2 separate regions of the Homo sapiens genome follow, and region 1 is linked to region 2. The links come from fine-mapping of genetic effects on gene expression. Tissue or cell type: sun-exposed skin. Region 2 holds a variant in brackets; the other region holds the start of a gene. All regions are shown on one strand. Distances are from middle to middle.

Region 1 (2,683 bases), 51 kb after region 2:
GCAATGAGCTCAACTTTCTGTGACAAACTTCAGGGGTACTTGTTTAAAAGCATGTTATTTGTGCTTCACCCACAAAGGTTCCAATTTGGAAGAGCTGAACTGGGCCCAGGAATGTATATCCTTTGTGTGTCCAGGAGGAGGTGTGGGTGGAGATAAGCAGCTCCTTGACCACACTTCAAGCAACAACTGGGGTGTGATTCTGAGGCATGTCTTCTCCTCCTCCATTGACTTTCTCCTCTCCAAAGGGTTATCACTGGTGTGACCAGCTCCTCCAGAGGTACCTAAGGTGATCTCATAGCAAAGACCCACGCCCTGGACCCATCCTGCTAGTGATGAATCTGAAGGTTCTGAAGGTTCTGTGCATAACCATGTGGAGCCTGAGTGCACAGGGGCCCAGAGCTATCCTGATTTCTAATCTGGAGCTCTTTTGTCTCTACCAAACTGCTTCTTTATTGAAACTTTACATCCTGAGGGGTTCACTGAATAACAGCGACCCCAAGGCACCTAGAAACAAGCAATGTCATGTTTCTGTACTTGGATTAGAAAACAGGAAGGGAAGGCAGGAGAGTGTGTGGTGTATCTTAGAAAAACTTTTTAAACGTGATACAATCTGAGGAAAATTTGCATTGATGCCAGTAGAGGGCTAGATAGCTTTAAAATTGATCATTTAAATGTATTGACGTAGAAACGTATTCACAATATACTTTAAATGGAAAGCTGTGTTAGGGTCAAGTCTTACAATGCGATTCCACGGTTGCACTGCCACACACACACACTTACATATGTGCCCAGAAAAGCATTGGAAGTAAACCACGTCCTCCTGTTAATAGCAATTGTTTCTGGGTGGTGGAGTTTAGGGGAACTGATGCACTTTTTTCTTTGGTTTTGCCCATCTGTACTGTAACTTTCCCCGAACAAATGTGCATCACTTGTGTCATAATTTACTTTTTTTAAATACATGGAAACAACCACAGTCTGTATTTATTCTCTGGTTAAAGTGCTAAGCCTTGTAATCTAGAATATTCATCTGTCCGAGACTGTACCCTGGGACTCATCTCACGATGAGACATTTGGCCTCCTCCCCAACTCAGTTTCAGAATTCATCTGCTGGATTTCTGAGTCCCACTGAGTGATTAATGTCACACGGGTGACAAGGCATGACTCATAGGCACCAAGAAAGCAGCAGCAGTGTGTGCAGGCCGGGAAGTTGCCACAGCCCTCACTCAGGGCTTCATGCACGCCAGGGCAGTCCTGGGTCAATGGTCTCTTTCCCCTCCTCCTGTTGGATAGATGAAGAGGCCTGAGCAGGAAGGTGGTGGTTCCGTGGGGAATCTTCAGTGACTGGAGTATGTTGTAAGGATGGTGAATCGTCACTTGGCCAGCCAGGGTTTGGCAGTCAAGACAGAGAGCAGTGTCTGGGCCCACAGCATGAGAGACTGCTGGACTTCAGTCTTCGGAGCAGGCAAGAACGGGGAGCTTCTGTGGATTTCTATTCCTGTCGCCTGTCACTGTGAACAGTGCCCAGTACTGCTGGTCAGTAAATGTTTGCTAAAATACTGAGCAACCAAGGAAGTGACTTCAGTTGAACTCTGTACCTGTTGTGTTCACTTCCTTTGCAACATGCGTGACTAATGGTTACTCCTTCTCTTGAATGCTTCCAGAAGAGTAGCACTCACCACCTCATGAGGAAAGGCACTGCAACTTTGGTCAATGATATCTGTTAGAAAGATCTTTTCCTATATTTAGAAGAGTGATTCTCATACCTGAGCATGTATGAGAATCAGTGGGTTTGAGGTGGGCCCAAGAATTTCCCTTTCTAACAAGTTCCCAGAAGATGCTGATGTGGCAGCTTCTAGCACAGTGCTTGGAAATCCATGAGTTTTCAAGAGGACAATCTAAAGTGTTCCTTTGTTTTCCTTTACTTCCCCTCATTCTCAAATCCTATGGGGATGACACAGAGAACCACAAACAAAACAACACACACACACACACACACACACACACATACACACACAGAGCACCCTTGTCCCTAGCTTTATCCTCTGGGATACACAGGACAAGCTCCTCCCTGTTCTATGTGCAACTTTTAAAATATGTGCAACTTTTAAAATACGTGGATGTGGCTTTCACATCTTCTTAGTCCCTCTTTAGCAGATTTTTTACAAAACAAATAAGCCAGGAAACCATGGTCTGAAAGGATTCCTGCTCTGGTGAGATCCAAGACCCACAGCGAGGGCGAAGACAGAGGTCTTGCTGCAGCCCCGGCTTCCTCCACATGGAGGTCCCAGGAAGACGGCATAAGCCATTGCCTCGATAATAACCTGCTTGCTAACTTCCAGCCAGTGCTTCCACATTTTCATGACTTCCAAAGGTTCAGATGAGGATGGTAGTTGTGAGTTTGGGATGAAGTCTTCTGAGCGACTCCTATGGCCCAGCCACAGGGACCTGGGGCTGGAGAGAGAGGACCATCCCAGGCTGCAGCAGCCAACACCTGTGTGGAGGTGCAGGCCCGTGGCCCCCAGCTGTGGTGGACACAGCTGTGCTTCCTGATAGCACCCTTCCCTGCACCTACACCGTGACATCCTCCTCCTCAGCCTGAGTGCAGGCACCACCTGAAGGGTATTTGGGGGAGGGCACCAGTGTCCCCAAGGTAGGAGCTAGTGCATATGGCCTCGTCCTTCAG
Region 2 (2,683 bases):
TCAGTGAATTGTGCATATTTAAGAAATGTGAGATTTTACAGAAAGATTTGCATTTCTGGCTTTTCTAAAAAAAAAAAAAAATCAAAGTGTCTTGCAATGCTGGCAACCAGCCCAACGTGGCAATCAGTGCCTGCATTAGCTTCCTCCTTAGTGCCGCCAGGCTGGCTCCTGCAGCCCTGGGAGCCTCAACATCACTAAATACCTATAACACAATAGCCTATGCATCTTCTATCGAAAGTCATGACAGTTCTTCAAATGAAAGTTAGCTGGGAACTATCCAGGATTCTCCCTATACCAAGCTTGTCCAACCTACAGCTCAAGGGCCCATGAGGCCCAGGATGGCTTTGAATGCAGTCCAACACAAATTCATAAACTTTCTCAAAACACTATGAGATTTTTTTGGTGATTTTTTTTTAGCTCATCACTATCGTTAGTGTTAGTGTATTTTATGTGTGGCCCAAGATAATTCTTCTTCCAGTGTGACCCAGGGAAGCCAAAATATTGGACATCTCTCCTCTTTATAAAGCAGGGAGGGTCCTTCTAATTGTAACATCTTATGAATTCTTGAAGACTCTACAACTGTTACTCTCCCTTATTCTTCTTAAGACCAGCTCCACTGTGCACCTGATGCTAGTAAGCGTTGGGACGTGCTGGGAGACTCCCCTATTCAGGGGACAACCCTGACAGATCTGAGCAATGATGACATTTCTGTCCCCAGCTGACACCTGGCTCAGGAGGGACCTGGCTCAGGAGGGACACAGACTGGCCCATGTGGCATAAGGGAAAGTTCCATATGCTTCTGGGAAAGTCCCCCTTGCTCTTAAACAGAGACTGGAGAAATGGCCAGCCTGTCCTCTGAGTGATCTTCTGAGGGCTGGTGTGCAAAGCTGCTGTGGTCAGGACAAGCTGGCTCAGAAAGGTGGCAAAAAGAGGGCAGGAGCTCGGGTCCCCAAAAGCCTCCTGGAACTGTGGGATTCACCAAACCTGAAATGATCCCACCTGAGACTTCTTATATGAAATTATTCTCATTCTTAATTGTTTGAGCAGTTATACTTTGGTTGTTACTTGCAGCCAAAAGCATTTTCTCCAGACTTCTGAGTCCTAAAAATTTCATTCTTTGACACAAGAGCTGACCCAGAGGCCCTGAAGCCCCTCTCAGGCCTGCAGAGCTTTGGTCTGTTTGCTGAATCAGATTCATATCTACACAACAGTTCTAGGGCCAAATTCTGCTCTCCCACACTCCCACCCACTCATATTGGAAGACAGAAGAGTCTTCTAGCTGAACTGTTTCTGGTGAAAGAGTAGCCTTCCTTCGCGGGCACTGACACTGAGGGAAGCAGCTCAGTGGCTACTTCCACCTGCAGATATTCCAGGTGGTGGCTCAGAACAGCTGACAACCATACCTGGGGAAGACTGGCCTTTATTTTTCTGGTTGTTCATACTCCAACAGCTAGCACCGTACGTTGGGGTCCAATGAAGCGAGCAGCAGTAGATGGCATGGCCAGGGCAAGGCAGACACGCTGGAGCAGTCGGGAAACCTGGCATCTACACCCATGCACTGGCACCCTCACCTTCCTGTTTCCCGTGGGAACAAAGTGGGCGGCAAATGCAGGGTGAGATACTGGGTCACTTCAG[G/T]CTCCAACTTGCAGAAGCTGTTTCAGACCCACAATGGGAGCAGGCTGCATCTTTTGCCTACTCAGGATAAAACGTGACACTGCTGCGTCATACAGAGATAGTTCTGCATGGTTTCCTAAGAAAGGCAAAGCCAGAATGCCCGGGGACTACCAGCATTTTACCTGAGTAATTACCATGTGAGCATGTTATCTTCAGGAACAATTTTGCTGTGCTTTAATAATTTATCTCTGAGCTAAAAAATTATAATTGAAAATGATAAGCACTTTCACGAGTTGGGTTGCCACACTGCAAAACCAATTTATTGCACAGAAGATTATAAAACACATTTCCATTCAACTCAGTCTCAAGTGATGGGCAGGTTGGAGGGGCTACAGAACCACAGTAGTATTAGGAAACTGCACAACTCGTATACCAAATAAAAGCATCAAGGATATGGGGGCAGCTGGAAAGCAGCCCTGCTCTGGTTGAGGGTTACTGTCGACATCTCCCTGTAATACAGCAACCTGATTCCTAAAGAAACAGATACAGTAGGCACTTCACTCAAACTAATGCTCTCCTCAGCCCAGGGCAGGGGAGCTCAGCCACAGGCCAGGTCCAGCCTCAGCTTTGCCAGATCCTTGCACGGGTCATGGAGGAGGCTCCTGGACCCGTGCAAGGATCTGGCAAAGCTGAGGTCCAGGCCAGCACAGCCCAGTTCTCTCCTCCTGCTGCAGCCAGGCTCTCAGCACGTGCATTCACCCCCACTGCTTTCCATCTGCCCACTTCTTCATTCATGGCTGTCCTTTCTGCCTCTCTGGTGTCCTGGGGCTGCTTTCACGTCGGCCTCCTCTGACCTCTGCAGGCCAACCACATGGGCCCCATCAGTCCTCTGCTCCCTGACCCTCAGGCATCCCTCCTGGAAGTGTCCAGTGTGTGGGCACCAGGTGGTCCACATTCCCTGGGCCTCTTCCCTGCTCTGGCCTCCACAGGGTTCCCTCCTGGGCCCTGTCTCTCTCCTGCCCAACTCACCGCTGCTCGGTTGCATCCACTCCCCACATGTCTCCTACTG

Evidence for each region. PIP is the estimated chance that this variant, and not a neighbour inherited with it, causes the effect.
Region 1: it holds the start of LINC03125, and the variant in region 2 is fine-mapped to the expression of LINC03125 in sun-exposed skin (GTEx, PIP 0.98).

The regions. Positions count from the first base shown.
Region 1 is chr20:23,146,882-23,149,564 of GRCh38, forward strand. It overlaps LINC03125 (long intergenic non-protein coding RNA 3125), which reads left to right and starts at 1,222. Exons shown (of 6, transcript NR_199692.1): 1 at 1,222-1,533. RefSeq lists an enhancer at 671-1,870.
Region 2 is chr20:23,095,551-23,098,233 of GRCh38, forward strand. No RefSeq gene overlaps it. Among named protein-coding and RNA genes, the nearest start is that of CD93, 11 kb to the left of the region's middle. RefSeq lists an enhancer at 589-738. The variant G/T (reference allele first, on the strand shown) is at 1,636.